Regions from separate parts of the Homo sapiens genome. Here regions 2 and 3 are each linked to region 1. Evidence: fine-mapped expression QTL. A gene starts in region 1. Each other region holds a variant in brackets. All regions are shown on one strand. Distances are from middle to middle.

What was found.
Region 2: its variant is fine-mapped to the expression of GDNF in tibial nerve (GTEx, PIP 0.92).
Region 3: its variant is fine-mapped to the expression of GDNF in fibroblasts (GENCORD, PIP 0.91).

Annotation. Positions count from the first base shown.
Region 1 is chr5:37,836,019-37,844,198 of GRCh38, reverse strand. GDNF (glial cell derived neurotrophic factor) reads left to right here and starts at 4,158. Exons shown (of 3, transcript NM_000514.4): 1 at 4,158-4,692. GDNF-AS1 (GDNF antisense RNA 1) reads right to left here and starts at 4,315. Exons shown (of 4, transcript NR_145476.1): 1 at 4,161-4,315. RefSeq lists enhancers at 4,297-5,234, 6,692-6,761, 7,113-8,051.
Region 2 is chr5:37,805,076-37,813,255 of GRCh38, reverse strand. It overlaps GDNF (glial cell derived neurotrophic factor), which reads left to right. Exons shown (of 3, transcript NM_000514.4): 3 at 1-579. Among named protein-coding and RNA genes, the nearest start is that of GDNF-AS1, 31 kb to the left of the region's middle. The variant G/A (reference allele first, on the strand shown) is at 4,506.
Region 3 is chr5:37,753,339-37,761,493 of GRCh38, reverse strand. It overlaps WDR70 (WD repeat domain 70), which reads right to left. Exons shown (of 18, transcript NM_018034.4): 18 at 8,059-8,155. Among named protein-coding and RNA genes, the nearest start is that of GDNF-AS1, 82 kb to the left of the region's middle. RefSeq lists a silencer at 4,920-5,168. The variant T/A (reference allele first, on the strand shown) is at 3,542.

The sequences.
Region 1 (8,180 bases):
CTACAGGCTGCAGCCCTACAGGGCCACAGAGGCTGAGCAAGAATGTGGCAGTACCTAGCATCCAGTCTCCTCCAGCGACCCTTTCAGCCAGCCTGGAATGTCCCCTCACCCCCACCTCCTCTCTGCTTACTTACTCCAATCAAGGGCTAGTTTGAGTTCCATAACCTTATAATACCCTGTATTATTTTTCATCATTTTATGGTTGTGTTTTCTCTTCCCAAGGACTGTAAGATCCTTGGGCACAAATTGCACCGATCATTTAGACAACTTTCAGTTAGAGACTCACAAGAAATCCCAGTGAAGAGGACGATAGCGATGAAATAGGAAATTAGCAGGGCTTCGAACCTTTTTTCTCAAAGAGGAGATGGGAGGCTTGAACAATGTTTGTTCTCTCTGATTCTCAGGCAGGGCTTCCTAGATAAAAAGCTGAGATCTGGGGACAATGTGAGAATCCTTAGCAGTATGTTGCTGTTGTTGCTTTATCAGAGGATGTTCTGCCTATTGAGAGCAGAGTCGGTGCTGCAAATTCTTCCCTTCTGGACTTCGCTGAGGAACAGCTTCAAATCAAACTATTCCGTTTCCTTGAGAACAGAGAAGCTGGAGCCTCGGAGCTGTGGGGCTCCCTACTTTCAGCTTATGGGGGCGTGAGACTGTGACATCAGGCCATCCCCTTGTTCCCAAGACACCAAATGTTTGCTTCCCATCTTAACTCTATTCAAGGCAGTCACTTCAGAAGGAACTTTTGCTGAATTCATCTGTATGCTGTAGCCATGTAAATAAATGTTCTTTCAAAATTAGAAATATTTGCTTTAATTCTAAATTAAATTTAACATTTTCCTTTATATTACTGTTTTAAGATACTTTGTATTTTGAAAGGAATTTAATGTTTTGGAAGAGTCTTAGTCTTAGAACCTATCAAAATAGGGCTTCTTCATTTTGCTTTCAAAAAGAATCATAAGATGATTGCAACCACTGGGAAAAGATAAAGCCAATTCACTAACCTGGGAGCATCTGAAAAATCAACTCCTGAGCTCCACCCTTCAAGAGATTCTGATTTAATTGCCCTGAACAAGGCCTAGGTCTGGGACTTTTTTTTTTTTTTTTTTTTGAGACAGAGTCCCACTGTGTCACCCAGGCTGGAGTACAGTGGTGCAATCACTACTCACTGTAATCTCCACCTCTCAAGTTCAAGCAATTCTCATGCCTCAACCTCCCAAGTAGCTGGGATTACAGGTGCCCACCACCACAACCAGCTAATTTTTCTATTTTTAGTAGAGACTGGGTTTCGCCATGTTGGCCAGGCTGATCTCAAACTCCTGACCCCAAGTGATCCACCCACCTCAGCCTCCCAAAGTGCTGGGATTACGGGTGTGAGCCACCACCACTTCCAGCCTACAGGTCTGGGTATTTTTTGAAATCTCCCCAGTGTTTCACTGGCCATGTGAAAATCAGACTCCAGGACATGAGTCTCATATATACTTCTGTTGGAGTATTTATCACTTTATACCATCAATACTCATGAGCATATCTCCCTCTCTGTAGTGGTAGTTTCTGAAGGGCTGGGAGAGGACTGTCAAAACCCAAAGTGCCTACCATTAACCCACCTCCTTCTGAGGGACCATCCTCTGTGGAGGGAATGTGGGGAGGAACTCTAGGAAGTATCTCAAGCAAAGGTGGCCAGGCTGTGTACTCTGTGATGCCAACAACCTGGACATGAATGATTGGCCCAGGATAGGCACCTGCCCCCAGGTCTGCGGATATACAGGGTGTTTTGCAACCTGTAAGGAGACTGATACAAAGGCTCAGTCCAACTCTCACCCCTGGTGAATCCCTAGCAGGACAAACTAGATCCTTTCACTAAAGGAGTTTAAATGTGAGATCAACTGAGAGCTGAGCAGTTGGTAGCAGGAGCAGAAGCCAAAGGACACCCAGGGGAAAACAGCGAGAGAGGAGCTGAATCACCTTGGCGGCTAAGCCGTTAGTGGGGATCGGCAGATGCCTGCTGCTGAGGGGGCAGCGAGATAACCCAGTCACAGAGCTGTATCCTGAATGACCTTCCAGTTCCTGAACTTCAATCCAGTTTTCATGAGGCCTGGCTGGGTGGCCTTTCCGGAAGGCTTTTCGGAGACACGTGGCGGAATGGTGGAGATTCCGGTCAGCCTTCCTTCCACAGTAAATTCCCATTACTGAGGGTAAACCTCAGTGGTATCTGTTCCTTGCAACCCCCGCCCCCCGCCCAAAAAAAAAGCCCAATCAGCACAATGCCCAGGGCCTAGCACTTTGCCTGGCACACAGCAAGTGCTAGATATTTGCAGGTGCTTGGACGGGCTGATCATCCCCAGCAAAAAGCCCTCTAAAAATAAAGAAATCATTCAGAGTAAGAACATTGATGAGGGTCGTCTTCAAATTCCAAAAACAATGCTAAACGGCAATAAATATATTAAGCTTATTCTGCCCTCTAATTTCTGAATCTAACTACATTTCTACCATAAATCTATCAAAGAGGGAAATGTCATTTTCTGCAGAACTCCAGAGAGCATCCTAATTTCAGCTAAGGTATGTTTTGATGACTCGATTTTCACTTCGCTTAATCTTAAATCACAGCAACGTTAGTAAGAACAATTTTCCTCCCACACTCGCTTCACTGACAAACCTGCAAAGTAGCTGATCTTTGACTTTTAAGAAGTTTAATAATACATGATCTTCCCCCCACACTGCCACACGCATTTCCCCTGCCTATTGTCTGTATCAGCTACTTGAAGAACACATACTCCCCAACAACCGGATGAGTCATAAAATAAGAGGTACATGGACGTAAACTGAGCCTGTTTACACTTTCCCTGGCCCCAGCTAATAAAATAAAAGAGGTCCCACTGAATTCAGGTCCAATGGCTTCCGGAAAACAGGTTTCTGCTTAGCAAAGACATGCCCTATTTAGTACATTATTTTAGAGGTACAGCCAATTCCATGCCCCATGTGAATGAAATGTATTTATGGTTATAGCCATGCACAGGGTGTGTAAGGACTTGCCCTCCTCCTGTCCTCTACAAAAGAAGGCTCAGGCAGCTTCTGGTGGTGAACTAACCAACAAAAGGAATGCCCAGAAGGTCTCACCTCTCCCATCCACAGAGCTCTGGAATGGGGGCCGGGCCCCTGATCGCTGGAAACTCAGCATCCAAGTGGGCGCTTGCTGAAGTTTCCCATCTGCATTTTCGAAAATCTGGATAAAAGCAGGTTTAGCTCAACCTCCCCTAACCCGTTCCTGATAAAGTGATCTTACGCCTCTGGAATTGGGATTTTGAATGTATGTGCCTGCCCCATGTCTGGTATTAGATTACAACAGCATGAAAATGGAGCCTAGGACTGAGGAGCCGGCCAGCCTCAGAAGCCTTCTTCATTGCCTGCCATGTAATACATGATATGCAAAGCCTCTGACTTCAGCCAGCAGATATTTGGAGACCGTGTTGGCCTTAGCATGGGGACTAAACTAATGTGTGTTTAGGTCAGAAAGCGAATCAGAAAAGCCACTGGAGGGCACGTCACGGAGTGAGAGCCCTATAAATTCATCCCCACTCGCAGCGTCCCCTGGCAAATACTCGGCTTCCCTCACCCGGCCGCTCCGCACCTCTCCTTCTCGGTGCTAGAACTCCGGCCGGCAGCTCCTTTTCTCGCCACTGCCTCCTGCCCTGCGGAGAAGCGAGAGGGCGAGACACCCGAGCGGGAAGGCCGGCCTTCGACAGGCGCGAGGAAAGCCCGGCGCTGCCCTGCACCGGCAGAGCGCCACCCTCCCAGTGCGGCGCGCGGGGGCAAAGCCCGGCGCGGGCGCCGCGGTCAAGTTCGGATTGCCCCTTTCGGCTGGCCCGCGCAGAGCGCCGCACATTCCTCTCGATTTTTGATCCACCCGGAGAGGAGAAGGCGCTAGCCCCGCGGCGTCTCCGCGCTCTCAGCGCTCTCCCTGCAGCCCAGGGAGGGGCGCCTCGCGTCGCCCACTCGCACCCCGGCCCCCCGCCTCGGGAACTCCAGGGCCTCCTCGCTGCTCTCCTCTCCTCCCCCACCGCCAGGCCCAGCCGACGCCTCCCGACCCCTCCCTCCCGGGGCCCCGCGCCTCCCCTCCCCCACCCCGGACCCCGGACCCCCAGCCCGGGCTCTAGAAGACCAGCCTGCGCTCCTGGCGCCCTCATGTCTTCACGGGACTCCCCGCGCCGGTTGACGTGGTGTCTCGTTCGGATCTCCAGGCAAGACCTCAGCTCCGGCAGCAGCATCAGACAAACCAGTCTCGTGCTCCCAGGCAGTGCGCCCAGAGGAGGCGCAGAGCGCGGCAGCTGCCGCTGAGCCGCCCGCAGCGCCCCGGGCCCGCGCAGCCCCAGCCAAGAGCGCGACGCGCGCAGCCCTGTCAGCCCCCCACCCAAAGCAGCGGCGGCTGCTCGGACCTCGGCTTCTGGGGGTGCGGGGGCCCGGCGGGAGAGTTGCCGGCAGCCCTCGCCCTGTTGGCGGCGGCGGCGGCGGGAGTCTTGGCCGCCGCCTCCAGCGCGCCCTTGCTGCCCCGCGCGACCCCAGGATTGCGAACTCTTGCCCCTGACCTGTTGGGCGGGGCTCCGCGCTCCAGCCATCAGCCCGGATGGGTCTCCTGGCTGGGACTTGGGGCACCTGGAGTTAATGTCCAACCTAGGGTCTGCGGAGACCCGATCCGAGGTAAGTGAGGGAGCGGGCCGGGGAGCAGGGAGCGGGTGGTGCCTGCGTCGCGGGTGGGTGCGGCCGGCTGAAGGGCGCCCTAGTCAGAGGGGTGCGTCTGGACCCCAGAGCAAACGGTGAGAGTAGAAAGTGGAAAGACTAGAGGGAACCTAAGCTATGCGAGGAGAGAGAAAAGTAGAACCGGAGAGAGGCCGGCCTTTCGGAGGGGCATGTTGCCTTTTCCACGTGGGCAAAGATCTGTGGAGCCCCAGATGCGCCTGGACCCGGAATGCCCAAGAGGGGCAGTTTCCTTCCCCGACTCGGCCAGGTGCTCTTCCGTCAAGTCACAGAACGATTCAGGGCTTGGGTCATCTTCGAACCCACCGCCGTCGAAATGTGTCCTCTCTGGACGTGCAGAGATACTATCATTGCCAAGAGTGCAACTTACTATTGAGCTTGTTTTGATCTGTGCCAAGGAAAAGCGCAGGCCGGGGGAGGGGCTGCTGCAAAGGTGCTGAGAACCTAAAAATGGAGGGCTCACCTCCTCCGGGCGAGGTCTGGCAAAGCTACATTCCTCACCCGGTTGCCTGCACGTTCCTAACGCCCTCCACCCCAACTAACCATCCCCGTCGAGGTTAGGAGAGGGGCTTTCTTGCCAGTCCTGGATTCAAATCTCTGTCTCGAACGTATTCTTGAGACTCCACTAGGCCATTGAGGTTATTATTTTAATGACCCCTTTTTCTCCTGTACTCTGTGCCGCCTTCCAAAAACACCCCACCACCACTGCCACTACTTTACACCACCTCGAGGCTAATTCCGCACTGGTGGTTTGTTTCCTGCCCCAACGAAGAAAAACGAACCCTCTTCGGGCTGGAAACGGACTTTCGCGGGTTCCCGCCAGCTTCCTGGGGCCCAGCTAGTTTCGGCTTTGGTAGAATCCGCCGCCAGGACCCATGTGCGCGCCCCCGGGGGGCTTACCCATCCCAGAGCTCGCGACCCTTCTGCTCATAGGCGGGGACAAAGGCAACTCTTCCGGCCCCTGCTGCGGAGATGTTAGAACGCGCTCGACTCTTGCTCAGTGTTTGGAATATATGCTTAGGTATTTCAAGGAAGAGATGTTTCTTCCAACCTCATTCACGCACCCAGTCCCGCAAAGCCGTCAAAGCCGGCCTCGACCAAACTCGTACTGTTTCGCTGCGCCTTCGCTTTGTCAGGGAAGGTGGCGCCTTTTCAACAAGTAACAAGTGTCCGATCTCTGGGAAGTCCGCCGTGTCCCTAGCCCTTTCCCGCTAGCAATTCGGGTGCTCTCGGGCCTGGAACCTGGCCCTTTAAACAGACCGCTTTCCCAGTTTGCCTGCGAGAAGTGTCCCAAATTCTTTTTCCTTCCCTCATCTTGGGCCCCGCAGTTATGGGGGGTTGAGGGGAGAATAAGTCCTCTGTCAGTCAAGGACACGAAGCATAGTTAAGAAAAGCAATAGATCTTCCAGCAATTTCTGTCTCTACCTCCCCCCGCCAAAAAAAAAAAAAAAAAAACCGAGTTTATAGCAAACCCGTCTCCCCGCCCCACCGCCTCCTTTTTCTCTCTCTGAGACCTGGATCTTGAAGGCAAAGCCCAAACAAACCTCCCAGCCTGCCAGGCACAAGAAGGTGCGGGGGCACTGACGGCGGGAGCGCTGCCTCCTGCGAATCTGTCACGGTGACGCGTGGAAGGGGTGAGGGATGGTCTGAAAGCAGGTTGCCAAGAAACCCGCTCAGGTGAAGTGGGGAGAGGAAAACCAGCGAGAATGGAGGGGTGGGAGCCTGAAAAGCAGAGATGCCAGTAAGGACCTCCACAGGTTCCCGGGCTAATGGGATTTCGGGAGGCTCGTAGAGGGAGTGGTGGTTCTCCGGTTTTATAACTAAAATGATAACACAGCCTCCGGGCCGCGTGGGCGCGACACGGCTCAGACGGTTTCTGGTGCCCCCTGCTGCCGGGAACTCAGAAGTGCCTCGCGGCGAGCGGCTGCTTCTGCGAGCACTTCTGTGGCTTTCCTGGGCGTCCTTGCCTCCCCAGGCCTGGGGACCCACAGGTGCCGGCGCCCACGGCCTGCTGCTTTTGCCCTGCCGGGACGTGGTGGTCCCGGACCCAGAAGGGGACCAGCTTGCCAGGCACGAGAAATGGTGCGCGGTCACCTGGCAGAGCAGAGCCCCCGTCACTTGAGGAGCAGAGCTTGGTTCTCGCACGTGGCGGCGCGTAAAGCAGTTTGCACCGCGGGCAAAGGCCCATGGTTGAGGAGAAGCGCGTCGGGCAGATGTAGATGTGTTTTGGGAAAGCGATAGAGAGACAAACTGAGAAGCCGAGGGGTGGAGCCCACACGGACTCTAAGAAAAACGTCCTAGTAGACGCTGTGTGTGCCGAGTCCCCCAACCTCCCCCCTTTTCCCCCGCCCAGCAAATACCGAGAACGAAAGAGCCCCTCGGACTGGAGCCGGTCCCGGCGGCGCTCAGAGGGAAGAATGCGCCCTCCCTGTCCCGGGGGAAGAGGGGAGCTCGATCCGGGCGCTGGCGGCGCTCGGCCGAGGGCGGGAACCGCAGCCGGGAGCCTCCTCTGGCGACGCGGGGAGTTTTCCACTGTGTAGTCTTTTGCCAGCTTCGCCACACTTCTAATTGAGGATCTCCACGTCCAATTTAAAAAGCCCTCCGTCGGCCAAGCAGGAAAAAAGGGAAAACCCTCTTAAGACGGAAGGGAAATCTAGTGCCTCTGTGGCTTCCTGCTGGCGGGCACCGCGATTTGGAATGGCGCATTAACCCCGCGCCTCCATGCTCCTCCGGTCGGACCGCCAGCCATTTCGCACGCACCCGGGAGCTGGCACCGGCGGGGGGCTTGAGGGGGGAAGCTCGCGTTCCCCAGGTCCTAGCTGCCAAAGTACCTTTCTGGGCTCATTTTGCATGGCCTGGTGCAGTTTTCCTGTGTCTGCACATCGCGACCCAGAACCTAGCTTTTTCCCGAGTTTGCAAACCAGCCCGCGAGGCAAGAGGCGCTCGGTGCTGCAGGTCACTAGGAGTTTCTAGTCCCTACACCCTCTCGAGCCCAACAGCTGCATAGCGAACAAACAGACGCTCAGGAGATGTAAAATGCATTAGTCTCTGCAGAGGTGGGAGGTGGCGGCCGAATTAAAGGCTTCCCCGGGTTGCCTGCACCGGGACAGGGAGTGGGGTTCCGGGTAGAGATGAGGACTGGAACCCTGGAATGGAGGCGGGGGTGCCTGTGAACTAATGGCTAGGAAAGGCACTGAGGTTTTTGCATTAACCTGGGTTTTGCATTTCCCTCCCGCATGGGAAAAAAAAAATCGAGTTTTTCCTAAGAACCGTTTTATGGAGCCGGTCGAGGGGATAGGATAATCGACTGCACGAATCTCGCAGATTCCGCTTGAGGAGATTCTCTCTAGGTCACTAGTGCCCTGGAGACGAACCCTGGGATTAGGAAGGCACTGGATAACACTGCACCCCAAGATGCCTCGGTTCTTCCC
Region 2 (8,180 bases), 31 kb after region 1:
CTTCATGGTTCTGCCCTTCTCTGTCCTTTCTGCTCCCCTTGCTCGCCTGGGAAATGGAGGAAAGGCCTTCCCTCTCACACTGTCTTGGGATCTTGCTGAGAATTCAGACTGCTCGAAACAGTGACAAACCCCAGCCATCCAGTCATTCGTGGAGCACAATTTGGATGTGGCCCCAGGGGCATCTGTCCCATTCAGAGAACCTTGGCAGTGCGATGGCCACTGTTCCCAGGCTTCAACCTCAGTGACCCCCCCCAACAACTCCCCATGGAGAGTCCCTGCCCAAAAAAGCTGTAGGATCCAAGGGGTGTCAATAGCTCGTTCCCGGCATCACCTACACACCACAAGCAGGTTTTAATGGAAGCAAGTTGCTCCACCAAATCCACAAAAGGGTAAAGTTTGTGATTTTTCTTTATCATTGCGATCACCATCTGATACCGTAAGGAGTGCACTTGTTTGGAAGTTCTGACTTCTCTGATCTGTCTTGGTCGTTTGTGTTATAAAACCAAAGTTCTCTACAGACTTTATTTTTGTACAATATCATTTTGTAACTTTTTACAAATAAAAACTCATTTCTATTGCTCTCTGTACTTCTGTACTTCCTTGCATGCACTGGGCCAGGCAGCCATCCACAAGTATTTCTTAGGAATCACCCCCTTCTTACCACACAGCCCACTGGATGGTCAGTGGCCTTGCCTATCAACTCCCAGCAACCAATCACCCACTCAGGAGGGACAAAACTTGCAAAATTGTTCTTATTCATTCAACAAACCCTTATGGTGTGCCTACACTGTGCCAGGCACTGTTCCTGGCACCAGGGCTCTAATGGTGACCAAAGCAAAAACCGCTGTCCTCCTGGAGTTATTTTATTTGCGGGGAGACAGACAACATTCAAAAAAGTAAAATATGTAGTGATCCCTGTGTTGAGAAACGCTAAAAGAATACAAACAGGATCCTATAATATAGACACTAACAGGGGAGCTTGCTTTAATTAGAAATGACTTTAAGACCGAAGTTAAGAAACAGTGCCAACAGATCAGGAGCGTCCCAGGCAGAAGAAGCAGCTTGTATGAAACTGAGTCACGTCACAGACTGCCTTGTGACTATCAAAAGGCGGCCTTGCATGGTGCTCTATGGCTCTTCTGCATGGCCCCAGCCTAGGCTGCCCCATGGATGGCATTTGTGCTGCACTAGCCTTTGCCTGAAATGCCCCCTCTTCCCGATGCACGCCGTCCCTGCGTGGAGACTTGGTGGAGTCACGGGTACCAACCTGTGGGTTCAGGCATTCAGAGTCCTTCTGCCAGGACTGGCTGGAAGAGGCTCCAGGGTGGTGCTGAGGCCAGCTGCGTTTTCTCCAAGCCAAAATTCCAGTCCAAAGTCAGTGACTTGGAGCGGGAACATAAGATGGTAAAACTCCTGCTTACCTCCTCTCCCTTTTTAGAGCTATTTTCCCAAAGTGTGTCCAGGATTACTTACCCAGTGAGATGCTCCTCAAATTTAAAAAAAAAAAAAGGGAGGAGGACAGGATGGTTCTCTGATCAAATAACTTTGGAAAATACTGAGTTAAATAGCATCAACCCATGCTTTAAGGTTTAAAATATAACTGTAGAGCTTATCAGAGCCTTTATTGGGCCAATGATTGTTTCACAGTCCAGGGGAGGGTGTCGTGTGCAGAATTCCCCATGTAGACGTGACCATGGATCCATGGGTTCATTGTTTTGTCTTCTTTCTCATCACACCTGGTGACCACCCTGGAAACTATTTTGGGCCATCTTGCGTGTTCCTGTGAGTTTCATGGTGAGTCACGAGCTGTACTAGAGATTAATAAGAGGCAGAAACTACTGGGCAGCTCCCTACTGGGAGGGCACCCCTCCCCAAACACACAACACACACACACACACACACACACACACACACACACACACACACACACGGTATTTGGACCCTGGTTTCTTGCTCAGCATGAATAACAAAACGATTAACCAGTGGTCAACTTTAGAAACTTCCTTAACCAAGAAAAGGAGAATGTGCTGAGAGCTGGGAAGTCCCCAGCAGCCTGGGGGCGCCTGCACCTTGCTCCCCCGTCCTTCTTGGGCTGGTGCTTTGCTGGTCTGCAGCCCTGAGTGCGCGCCACCCCTCACTGCGATCCCCAGAGGGAAGGCCATGCTGTTGGCCTCCAGCTCTGAAATCCGCGCTGCAGAGAAGGGTGGAAGAGCACTGGGTGAGGAGCTTGGATACTGGTCCCGACCGCCTTATGTGGCTTGTGCCCATGAGATCATCTCAGGCCAACTTTCTGCTGTGTTAAGGAGGCACTCTGGGGGACCGTGAGTGTGGAGTGAAGTAGGTTAAAGTGAACTTTTAAAAGAATCAATCCATTCCCGAGATAGAGGTGGAAAATCAGAATTTCCTGAACCTACGTCTGAAAAACAAAGACCTTCCCTTCGAACACAAGATCCTCCGTTGGCCACGGCTGATGTACTAGCTGACACCAGAATCCCTTGGGAGGGGGAATCCTGTTGCCTCCACTCATAGTCCACCCAAGGAGGGGGCGTGGGTTTTAGCCGAGGGTCTATGGCTTTTTTCCATCAGGTAATGAAAAAGCCCCAAGGGTCTTCTTGGGACACACGTTTGTTAACGGAAGCGCTGCTGGAATCCCAGGCAATAGTTAACTCATCTTTAGTCTCAGCCTCACAACATCCTGAATGAAATGAAAACCAAATGCTGCCAAGTCATCCCTGAAAACAGACAGTTGGGGAAACGAAGGGCAAGCACACATTTACTCATATTTACTCATCTAAGACAAGGAATACACTGTCACGTCCCTGGCCACGGCAGCTGAGTGGGATGAAGATGGGACTGCAGCTGCAGGGAGGAGTCCGTGATACCCCGAAAGCGAGACGTGCAGGGAGAGGTGTGGAGAGAGCGCTAAAATGCCTCAGAGAGAGCCGCAGGTGGGATAAAGAGCCGGAAGGAAAACAAATCAGAAACAGCTACAGATTAGTGTTGCCAGAGAAAATACAGGACACCTAGTTAAATCTGAATTTCAGATAAGCACGCACAATTTCTTAGTACAAGCATGTCTCATGCAACATGTGGGACATGAGACATGTGGAACATACTCATGCCTGTTATAACAAATAATATATATTTGTAATTTGTCTGAAGTTCAAATCCAAGTGGGCATGCTGTATTTTAATTTGCTAAATTTGGTGAAAGTTACATTGGAGCTGGACCTTGCAAGTGAGTAGGAATCTGTCACGTGGGCCAGGTCAACACAGGCTGGGATGGACGACAGACACTCCAAGCAGGAGGAACAGTGCGACCCAAAGTGTCAAAAGGGCAGGGTGGTGGGCTCAGAGTGGGCTAAGCTATTAGACACAGCAAACACAGTGCCTAGGGGCCCAAAAACTTTTTAAACATTTTTCAAATCAAAAGAAAAATAAATATAACAATAATGCATATATAATAATTAACCCAGCTTAGATTGTACTTGTCTATAGCAATGCAGTTATATATTTTAATGGAGAAGGGGCCCACAGAGGCAAAAAAGCCCAGAGCCCATGAAGAGTCATCATGCAGCCCTGGGTGCACTGCTAACAGCAAATTTTCTGTGTCCTCTGCTTCCAGTTTCCTTCTAGTTTTCTCTTTTTCATGAATTATTAAAGCCAACTTTGTCCTTAAAAAAAAAAAATCCCAGCACTTTGGGAGACCGAGGCAGATGGATCACCTGAGGTCAGGAGTTTAAGACCAGCCTGGCCAACATGGTGAAACCTCATCTCTACTAAAAATACAAAAATTAGCCAGGCATAGTGGCGCACATCTGTAGTCCCAGCCACTCAGGAGGCTGAGGCACAAGAATCGCTTGAACCCAGGAGGCGGAGGTTGCAGTGAGCCGAGATAGTGCTACCGCACTCCAGCCTGGGTGACAGAGTGAGATGGAAAAACAACCCTTCTTTCCATTCTTCAAGTTAGATTGTTTTCTCAAGATATTTGCATTTACTTTCTACTTAGGGAAGCATAAACTTAAGGCCATGCCATTGATATTCCAATGCTCATTCATGATTTCTGAGAAGCGACAATATGAATCAGTGGCCCAAGGGCATGGCAACAGAGGGAAGAGCACGTCAGATGGAAAGTGGACGGGGTGGGCAGACCGTGAGAGGGATGGAGAGAAGACTTCAGCCTCCAGGAAACCAGAGAACCATAGAGCTGAGCAATGGTGAAGAAGGATGAGGTTTCAGAACATGTGGAATCGATTGTTTTAACTTGGGAAACTCTTTAAAGTGGTACATGTAGGGGATTTTAACCCACTCCCTGCTCACCTGCTCCGGGTCTGGGTCTCATTCATTTAATTAATTTCTGAGAAGCTATCTCCTGCCAGGGGAGAATGTAAAGATACAGAGACAATGCTGCAAGGGGCTCCCAGATTAGAGGGACAGAAATGGAGCATAAGAACGTGGGGAGGGGCAGCGATGAAGACGTGCAGTGAAGGGTGTCATGGAGCTCCC[G/A]GGAGGGACAAGGAATCCTGCTGACCCTGGGGAGCAGGGGAGGCGGGTGGGGAGGTCGGGGCGGGGTGATGCTATCAGGGACTACCTCCTGGAAGTGGCTGCCTAAACTATTAAAGGATGAGTAGGAATTTCCCAGAGAGGGCTTGAGGGAGGGGAAGGCATTCCAGGCTGAAGGGACACTGAGAGCTCAGCCGTGACACCCAGACACAGCCTGGGGTGCTGTTGGCTTGGGAAGGTGGAGATGGGGAGAGGACAGAGCTCTGGATGGCAGGGCGGCTAAGCTTCACTGGGAGGAATGAGAGGGGAGAGAGGCCTCCCATGGAGAAAGGCAGCCATGAGGTGGGGGACCAGGGAGCTCTGCTCTGCCAGGCTCCAAGCTCCTTGGGAAAAGGATCACTTTGGATCTTCACATCCACCCCCCCCTTTCAGACCCACCGCCTCTGCAGCCCCTCTCGAGCCCATGCTTTCAAGGCCTTGTCTGCACTGATCTCATTCTCCTACAGACTGGCCTACCAGGAACATTTGCTTCCCACAGGAGACTCAGTAGGACTGCAAGGCTGTTTCCCAAGCTGCAAGCGTTTCCCAAGCTGCCCGGTGGAACCCTAGGAAGCATCTGTGTAGGCTGGAATTCCTTGATCTTAAACATGGGAGAAATGTCACATACTTCAGTCCCCTCTCACGGAGCAGCAACGACATCACACATTCCATATGAAGCAAGGATCTGAGAAGGCCTGTGGAGGGAAGCCCTGTTTAATCTTGTCTAACCCAGCATCTCCCAATCTTATTTGACCAAGGAGCACCTGTTGGCATCTAACAGAAGTGTTCTGCTGGACAAAATGTGGAAAATGCTATTCTAGAGCCAAAGGAATGAATCTGTAACGGAACAATTACACACATCAGAATTCTTTCTGGCCAGGGGGATCTTCCCAACCCACCATTTGTGGAAAGGCACACTTGGCCAGAAGGACTCGACAAATGGCCAAGTTCTCTTTCACACATCATTTCTTTCACACATGGCACATCAGACTGGGCCAGTGAGCATTAAACACAGGCATGTTCACATTTCTTTTTTTTAAACATTTTTTAATTCTTAATTTTTGTGGGTATATAGTAAGTGTATATATTTATAAGGTAGAGATTCTTTGATACAGGCACACGATGTGTAATAATCACATCATAGGGTATCCATCCCCTCAAGCATTTATCCTTTGTGTTACAAACATTCTAATTATACTCTTTCAGTTATTTTTAAATGTACAATTAAATTATTATTGACTATAATCACCCTATTGTGCTATCAAATACTAGGTCTTATTCATCCTTTCTAACTACTTTTCATACCCATTAACCATCTCCACATCTCTCCCACCATGTTCTCATTTCCCCCTGAGCTTGAGCTGAGATGACCAACCCTCCTCCCTCAGCCTCACTCTCCACCATCCTCTACCCTCACTCCACCTGGCTGACCCTGCCATGGCACAGTTGTGGTCATCATTAGTGCAGTTCACTTCACAATTACAGATCCTGTCCATTTCTCGGCACATAGTAAGATTGTATGTTTCAGTTCCCTTGTGGTTGACTGAGGCCAATGATTGGCCAAAGAGCATGAGCAGAAGTGACCAGTGAAATGTGACATTCTGAGCCTTGTGTTTAGTGGACATTATGAGATCCTCCAAAGCCTCTTTCTTTTCCTCTGAGACAGCAGCTGGCAATATTCAAGATGGCGGCAGTTCTGTCTACTTCAAGTGCTGATGGTAAACAGAGCCCCTCTGCCAACCCACAACAGGCACAGCACAACGTGGTAATTGAGGAATAAACCTTTGTTATTTTGAGCCACTGAGATTTGGAGGTTGTTTGTTACTGCAGCCTATATTAGCCTATTCTGACAGGCACAAGCTTCTATTGTGAAGAGGTGCATTATGGGCCATGAAGAGAGCAGTCCCGTAGAGATGGGGAAAAAAGCAAGCAGAGAGGCCCAAAATGATGGGGGAGCGGGAAGAAATAAAGCTGAAAAGGCAGCCAAGATCACGTAGAGTCTTTCCGGCCGTGGTGGCAATTTAGGATTTCATTCTGAATCAGACAGGAAGCCATCCGAAGGTTTTAAGACAAAGGGAGACAGGATCTGGGTGTGTTTTTAAAGGATTATTCTAGCTGCTTTGTTGAGGACAGACTGTACAGGGGCAAAAGCAGAAGCATGGAGACTAGCTAGGAGGCCCAAGTGAGAATCCATGTGGGTGATAACGGTAACTTGGACTGGGGTGTAGCGATAGCAGTGCTGACACAGTGTACCCAAAGATCAGGCATAAGGAGGACAGGAGAGAAGAAGAGAAAATGCATCATCAGAACAGCACCGAGGCTGACGCCCGTGCAGTGATATCTCTACGAGGTGAAATAGGGAGGGTTGGTGTCTCATTCTGGATGTTCTCTGCTGGGAAGGTAAGAAAACAGACCCTCTCTCCTGACATCCTAACTCAGGGTAAGGCAGGAACCAGTGCAGGGCGAGGATCTGAGGGAGCCTGCCAGCCCGAGGTCTGGAATGCCATTTAAAGTGCATGCCCGGTGCGTTGGCTCACATTCCGGGATGAATCTGCCACCGCTCCCTCTGACAATGTTTAGCATGAAATAAAAAGTATGGCTTTCAAATGATACCACGAGGAAGATTCTTGAGCAAATATGGCCAAAGTTTCTCTGCAGAATGTTCTCGGAGGCTGGGATTCCAACCACCTCCAGCCTTCTTTTTCCACCCAGTCCTTCCCAGTCCTGCAGTAAGGTTTGACCAGACCACGGCATTGGCCTCCTCACAGGGTTACCTGATCTTGCTGCCAATCAAATCACTCAGACTGCCAATCAGAACCTCCACAATCTGTTCCAAACAAAACTTTTCTCTAGTTCTTGTTTGGTTTTTGTCCCCGAAATCTTCCTTTTACACCAAAACTCAACCCTTCAGTCACTGTGGATGTCCTACAGAACTTCAAAATACATGTTGAGCTTGTGGCAATTTCTCAGTGTTGTACCCTTGCCCCAGCCATTTTCTCTGCTGGAAATACTGTCCCTCACATCTTCAATGCTCCAAATACTCCCGTGGCGGTATTTATCACTCACTTAACTGTGATTCTATAGCCAAAGTGCTTTATGTGTGGGTCAGGCTGATGACATGAGAACTTTTTCTTTTAGATTTTTTTTGTAGATATGTAAATAAGTTATGCACCGATCTTATGATCTCTGCTAAGTTGAGGGGCTCCTTGAGTGCAGGAGCAGGAGCCATGTCTGGCTCACCTTTAAATCCTGAAGAGCCCTGAGCACCTGCCTCCTCATTTGACCAAGGAGCGCCTGTTGGCATCTAACGGAAGTGTTCTGCTGGACAAAATGTGGAAAATGCTATTCTAGAGCCAAAGGAATGAATCTCTAATGGAAGAATTAGGTAGCAGATGCTCAGAAAGCATCTGTATTTGTCAGGACTTTGGCTTACAGCAGCAGTCTCCAAACTTTTTAGCACCAGGGACTGGTTTCATGGAAGACAATTTTTCCATGGACCAGTACTGGTCTGCGGCCTGACCACTGGGAATCCCTGGCTTACAGGTAACAGAAACTCAACTCAAAGTGCCTGAGACAATGAAAGGAAATTGATTGGTTTGTGTAATGGAAAAGTCCTGGGGTGGATCTGGCTTCAGAAAA
Region 3 (8,155 bases), 83 kb after region 1:
GTCTAAGTCAAATTACTCATGATAACCCATCGGTTATCAGTGCTATGCACCTAAATTGGAGAAACAACTGGTATTCAAGAAGACATAAGTTCAATGTTAAGGATGGACTCATGGAGAACCAGGATGACTGCCTTATCCTTCCTGAGTCCTTAAAGCTTTTGTCATTAAAAATTCTGCATTCCATGACTCATCATGGAAAAGATAAAGTAATCCAAATTAAATATATGTATCGGTGTGATGATTTCTAAATTGTCAAAATAGTTTATGACCAGTGTTTGGTTTGTCAAACCCACATTCCTGGGAAGACAATCAAAACTTCAGATATATTTTGCTACCTGATTGTCAAACCCATATTCCTAGGAAGACATTCAAAACTTCAGGTACATTCTGCTCCCTGATGGGCCATTTAAACATTTATAGAGGGATTTCATTCAATTGTCATTTTCAATGCATGTTTTCTGGTTGTATAAAAGCTTTCCCATGCAAGAGGGTTGATGTTATACACTAGCTCATTATGCAACAGTGTATTTTCACCAGGTAAAGAAATCTTTTCATGCTTCACTGACTGAAGACAATCAACACCTTCACAATCTAGAATGCAAAGATTGGATCTCCTGAGAACATCAGAGAAAGACTGCCCTTGCCATCCACACAGTAGCAAAACTTCAGGACCTTGAACCTTGGGTTCACAATCTCACAAGTCAGAGGGGTCCCTCTACACTCTTGGAACTATACACCCACTGGAATCCTTAAAGTAAAGCTAACCAGGGAAGTTTCTCCCCAGAAGAAGATGGCATCCTTTATGTAGACAGCTTTTTCCCAAGATCACAGATCAAGATTTCTCTACTATCATGAGACTCTTATCTTTCCGTTTTTCCCTCTTGCTTAGGCCTCTGCAAACAATAGAAGTGAAAAGGGGGTCTGTTGTGTGCACTCGTGGGGCATAATTTTTCTTGGGAAGGATTTTGCAGCCAGCCTTCTATATGGATAACCTTATGTCTAGACAGATGGAAGGTCCAATGTAGGTGAGAAATTTTAAGGGTACAGACATTGCCTCATAATCAGTCAGAAACAGAACATTGGTCCACTCCTCTTAACCTACATCATAGGTTAAAGAGAACATTGCCAGGAGGTCTTCACTGCTCTAGAAAGACATCATTTGTTAGGTGGTTTTTTTCATGGTTTGGAGTAAATGGGGCAATAACTAGAAATTTAGCCCTCATGATAGGCTCTATGGCAGATTCTACTGTAAAGGCTGTGGTTACACAATGGACTTTAGGTTATCTTGTGAAAGTTATGCTAAATAATATAATTGCTCTACATTACTTATTGGCTAAACAGAGAAATATCTGTGCAGCTGCTGGCACTTCTTGTTGCCCATGGAGAAACACATCACATCAGGTATTATAGAAGTTCAGTGGTAGGGGATTAACAAAGAGACTGCTTAAAGTGAGTAGATTATTTATCTAGCTCCTTCTTTATTTGATTTTAGGTGGTTTGCTTTATGGGGACACTGGCTAAGGCGCATACTGCAAACTCTTGGTATTGTCCTCCTCATAGTCATAATAGTCTCCCTGGTGTGCTGTATTCTCTCAACAGTTCTAAATGTTTGCATGCAGACATCTTTAGAATGTCAAATGATCTTTCTTCAACTGGATAAGAGCTAAAAGAAATGTGTGACCATGAGGACATCATAAACTATGAATTACGTGCTGAGACAGGAAACCCAAAATGATGGTACAATAACTGAGAGTGGGCTGGGCGCGGTGGCTCACACCTGTAATCCCAGCACTTTAGGAGGCCGAGGCAGGTGGATCATGAGGTCAGGAGTTCAAGACCAGCCTGGCCAAGATGGTGAAACCCCATCGTTACTAAAAGTACAAAAATTAGCTAGGCATGGTGGCAGGCGCCTGTAATCCCAGCTACATGGGAGACTGAGGCAGGGAATTGCTTGAACCCGGGAGCCAGAGGTTGCAGTGAGCCGAGATCATGCCACTGCACTCCAGCCTGGGTGACAGAGTGAGACTTCGTCTCAAAAAATAATTTTTTTTTTTTTTGAGATGGAGTTTCACTCTTGTTGCCCAGGCTGGAGTGCAGTGGCGTGATCTCGGCAGCTCACCGCACCTTCTGCCTCCCGGGTTCAAGCAATTCTCCTGCCTCAGCCTCCCAGGCAGCTGCGACTAGAGGCGCCTGCCACCACGCCTGACTAATTTTTAGTAGAGACAAGATTTCACTATGTTGGCCAGGCTGCTGGTCTCGAACTCCTGACCTCGTGATCCGCCCGCCTCGGCCTCCCAAAGTGCTGGGATTACAGGCGTGAGCCACCACGCCCAGCCTAAAAAAAATAAAAATTAAAAAAAAATAACTGAGAGTGACATTAAGGCCTTAAATTTGGGTCACACTCTTATATGAGAACCTGACCAGAAGGGGGTAATTTTTAAACAAAGTTATGGGAGGCCATTGTTTTGGACTGGGCTCATGCTCTAAGCCCCAACAGACCAGACCAAACTAAAATGGAGTCACTCATGCCAAATGTGACATAATCAAACTAAGACTTCAGGAAACACATAGATCCTAGAACAGGTGGGTTTTGTTTTTCTCCTGTAAACAGAAAGTTCCAGCATAAGGAGGTACCCTCTACTTTAACCCTTACAAAAAAAAAATAATAATAACCTCAGGTCTTTGTTTTCGCCTTACACAACCTACTGTTGTGCTATTTCTCAGTGGGTTTCAAGACCAAATAAGTACATTTACAATGGTGATAGGGACATCAATGACTAAAGTTTTGGTGAATCTCTCAAAATTGAGAGGGTTACCAAATGGAGGGAATGGTTAAATCCAGTTTAGCCTAAAGCTGCCTCCTTACGTATTTTAAGTTCAGCCTAAAGATTTCTCTGTACATCATGAACTATAACCTATATGGAGTTGTATACAGACTGTAGCCTACTCTTGTACAAATCACCAAGTTTTGGCCAAAGATGTCCAACTCTTCAACCTGTGTTCAAATAGGGCATTCACCAAGCTATAACCAATCCGGCTGTTTCTGTACATTTCCATTTTCTGTGCATTACTTTCCTTTTCCTGTCTATAAATCTTCTACCACATGGCTGCGCTGGAGTTCCTAAGCCTACTCTGGCTTGGGAGGCTGCACGATTAATGAATCATTCTTTGCTCAATTAAACTCTTTTAATTCAGCTAAGCTTTTTAACAGTGGACATGAATTTAAGGGAACACTGTTCAACCCAGTAAACTAGAAATATTTCCCAGAATCATCTTTGTCCTCTCCAATTGGGCACCTACTGATAATCAGGATTGCAATGGCCCTATCTAACAAATGAGTCATACTTTTTGACCCCGCATAATTCCATTTTGGGTTACTTACCAATTCTAAGAAAAGAATTCAACATAAACTATCCAAAGCAGCATTGCTTATAATAGCAAATTTGAAAATAATCTGTATTTCCAATAGGATAATAGTTTAGAATATATATGTATATAATGAGCTACTATGTAGCTACTAAGATTATATATGAGGTTTATA[T/A]TATGGAAAATTTGCATGCTTATTTTATAAGTGAAAAATACACATTGTTCATAAATATAATAATTCTATTTTTGAGAAGAGAAAATAAATCTGAAAACTATATAAAAAAGAAAAAAATTGAAGGTAATTCATCAAAATATTAGTACTGTTTGTGCTAATATTTGAATTAGCACAAATTGAATGGTTGAATAATTTTATCTTTTAAGTTGTTGCAGTTACACATTTCTGTATAATAAACAATCCCACAACTTAGTAGCTTCAAATGACAATAATCATTTATTTTGTTCATTAATCCACAGTTTGGGCAGGGCACTGTTGGGATTGGCTCATCTCTGCTTCATGTGACAAGAGCTGATGTGACTCAACTGTAACTGAAGGATCTGTTTTCCAAGATGGCTCAATAACATGTTGCTTCCAGCTGACAGCTGTGGGAGCTCTTTTGGGGTTGTTGGCTAGGGGCCTTAATTCCTCTCCAAGTGGGCCTCTCCATGGGGCTGCTTGGGCTTCCTCATAGCATGGCAGCCAGGATTCAAGAACAAGTGTCCCAAGAGAAAGAAAGGAGGTGCAATTCTCTTAAGGTCTGGGCCTGGTGACTTGAAAAACATCATTTCTGCCATGTTCTGTTGGTCTAGATGTCACCAAGCCTGCTCAGATTTAAGGGGAGAGAAGTGTCAATGAGCTTGTGGCTATTTTTTTTTTTTTTTTTTTTTTGAGACGGAGTCTCGCTCTGTTGCCCAGGCTGGAGTGCAGTGGCGCGATCTTGGCTCACTGCAAGCTCCGCCTCCCGGGTTCACGCCATTCTCCTGCCTCAGCCTCCCGAGTAGCTGGGACTACAGGCACCCGCCACGACGTCCGGCTAATTTTTTGTATTTTTATTAGAGACGGGGTTTCACCGTGTTAGCCAGGATGGTCTCGATCTCCTGACCTCGTGATCCACCCGCCTCGGCCTCCCAAAGTGCTGGGATTACAGGCGTGAGCCACCGCGCCCGGTGGCTATTTTTAATCTACCATTAAAAATAAGCATTTCCAAAAGTTTCATTAGAGTATTATTACTACTGGGGGCAGGTGAAGTATCTTTTAAAATGCTTTTATTAAAAAATGTGAAGACAGTAGTATAAACTGATAATTCAGAAAACTACTTAGAATGGCAGTTTCTCCACTCTTTGCCCTGAAAGTTCCTCCTGCAGCTACATACTTCAACACACGCACACCCCACACACAAAGATCTCCTGTCTTCAGGCACTTCTCCCATGGCCTGGTCCTCCTCTCTCTTCTTTGGTGAGGGTATTAATCAAAAATTAAAGTTACATGTGCCTTATTCCAGAAAGATGGTTTTCAAAATGTGTCTGTAAACAACCCTCTCCAACTTCTTGATCTCTTCACAATAAGTCTCACAAATGAATGAGGCATATCACCTCTGGGGGGCTACTGACCCAGGCTGTTTGTGTACCTGTACACCTTGCCTTTCTCCTGCCCCATCTGACTCACTGATTATTAAACACTATCTCATGCCTGAGATAGTCATGTTGATTCTTTAAAGCTTGTCTCAAGTTGGCTCAAGTCTCATATTTGTTCTTAGATCACATTAAGAAAAATGCTCACACTTTTTTTTCTGCCTTCATATGGCTGTGAAGCTGACCTCTTGTTTTTTTAATGGGACAGAAAGCCATAATCTTTCAAAGAATAAATACTAAGGTCTGACTACAAAGCAATATGACTGATTGCCTAAGATTAAATGGTAGACAGTGTATGAAAGGTTTTAGTTGGGTTGGTTTTATTTGGTACTGTGTGTGTGTGAATGTGTGAGAGTTATGTCCTGGTTTTCAAGTATGAATGGCCCAATTTTAGACAGTTATCCTGGGAGATGAAGGAATTACTAGCTGTACCCAGTATCCTCGAATTGAGTCTAATTTATGGATTCTCTCCACAGAAAAATGTACGAGTATAAGCAAAGCATGCTGCATAAAATTTGAGGGAGTTCACAGACATCCCGCCTAGGTTAAGAATCCCCATGCTAGACATCTCTCAGATCTTTGGTAAGTCAGGGTCACATGACCTTCCCAGTATCAAGTCCAACAGGACAGGAGGCAAGTACCTGAGGATGTCATGGTGGCTTAGAACTTGCTGTGCCCTGCCAGGAATAGCACAGATAATCCTGCCTCCTCCTTGAGCCATCACAGTTAGCTGTGAATAAATCCCCACAGAGAAGAGGTAAAGCAGCCTGGATGCAGACCAACCTTCAGTACTAACGATCCTCCTTTCCATCTGCGAGGCAGAAGCACTTCTCACACCTCATTCTTTTCCCATCCATTCTTCATCCTTGCCTGTTTCATTCCCTCCCTCTGCCAAAGATTGAATACGCCTCTTTTTAAACCCTTTCTCAGGGCTAGGGTCTAGGAATACAAATGTGAATAGAACATGGCTCCTCTAATTTATTAAACAAACTTACTGAATATTTACTGAACCCAATGCTCTTTAGTTTTTACAATCTACACCCTAGTGAGGAAACATGCATGTACACACATGGGCACACACCACTGGCCCACAAGCCATTCATGTGTATACAATCATAACGCAACATAAAAGGAGGCTATAATTGAGAGATATGTAAGCAACTATCGAAGCGGAGACTGTCTGCCTGGGAAGGTGAAATTGATTCCTGTTTCCAAAATCAAATAGGAATTTTCCAAGCAGACAAGGGTGGAAGAGGGGACAACATGTGCAAAGCCATTCAGGTGCCAAAGAACATAGTAGTGGCTGAGCCTCAGAAGCATGTGCCAGATCAGCAGGAGTTACAGCATGAAACACAGGGAAAGGCCGAATCCTGGATGTCCTCAATTGCCACATAAACGCATGAGTACTGACATAGAGCTTCTGGAAGGCTCTAGGCAAAAGAATGAAATGACAGATTTTGACTTTAGAAGGCCAACTCTGATGACAGAATGAAAGATGGGTTAGATGAGGACCTAATGAAAAACAGGAAGATCATTTGGGCAGGAGGCTCCTGAGTGGTGCTGGTGAAGGCTAAAAGAGGGTCTAAATTCTAGAGGGGTGGTAGGGAAAGAGAGGAAGGGCAAATATGAGAGATTCAGAAGACAGCATGGGAAGAAACTGGCAAATAATTAAATGGGTGGGAGTGGGGGGTGAGGGAGGAGTCATTAGGATGACTGCCAGTTCCTTCGAGCAACTAGAAATGAAGGCGACCAAATACAAGGTTGCATGGGGGAAGATAACGAGGCCTGAGGGACATGGGGAGTGTGAGGGACTGTAAGATAAATAACTGTTGATGCCCACTCTGGTGACAGGACTGCAGGTCAAATGAACACACACTATTTGTCCATTCCTGGTTCTAAACTCCTCCCTTACCAAATTTGAAATTGAAATCCGTATGTGCATGTTGCCAATCTTCTGTGGAAAAAATAATTCTTTATAAAACTCTCTACAGTGAGACAGATCCTCTTAAATATGAAAAGGCCCACTTGTGTTGTGGGTAACGATGAGAAAATCATCTTCGTGCGAAATTTGCCTTTCTCTTCCCTTACATCATAGCTGACTCCGCCAAGACCACTATGATCAAGTTTTTATTCCTCCTCCAACCCTCCACTGCAACTTTTGGCTGTACAAGACGAATACTTCCATATGGTGCAATGTTTATGTTAAGATGGGGGAAAATGTGAGATGCTTTCAGTAAATTTTATTCAAGAAGTAATAAATTTATACATTCTAAGCAGCTGGAACAAAATATTGGTCTGTAATTGATTCTGAATGAAGTGTTTTTCAAAAGGAACAGAAAACTTGGGGCTATTTGTTAATTACTGATGTTTAGAGATCTTGGGTGCTGTCATGCAGCCCTCTCTGGCTGTGACCTCAGACATATGATTTGACATGTTGAATCTCTTTTGCCTCATCTGGAAAATGGGTTTAGCAATTTTACCTACTCATAGGGTTTTTGTGAGGATTAAATCAGCTAACACAAGTAAAGGGCTTGGGATAGTACTCATTATGTAGCAGACACTCAGCAAATGTTAGTTCTTTTCTTTTTACCTATTACCTATAGTCTGAGTCACAAGAGAAGGGGAATAGGATGAGGATGGGGGTAGGAAGGAAGGACTGAGAAAGTGTATGAGAATGAAGTTTTAAGGATTTATCTATAAAAGAATGCCCACTGCCACCTCAGAATCTGTAGAGACAAGGGAGCTGTGTGAGTACAAGTGATTCTTTAAAAATATTTTTTGGGAAGCAGGTGTGGGTACGTGAAGCCTGTAAAACCAGGAGTTTTCTGATATACTTTTGGGATCATCATGCATTTTTATAATTATTGAAATCACTAGAACAAATGAGAGCAGGAGGGGAGAAGGCAAGTCCTAAAAAACCTGTCTAGAGGGGACTATTTAACATGCAAAAACTACCCCATGTCTGTGTGAAACCAATGCACAGAATTTATTCTATTGATGCATTATTATTTTGGACAAACTGCCAACTTTTGTTTTAGTTTTTTAGTCACTAAAGCACAATGATTTTTTAGAATAATTTTTAATGTCTTCTGTTTAGTCTTTACATTTACAAAGCAATTCTATACCTTTCTAATTTAATACTGATAAAAACCAAGCAAAG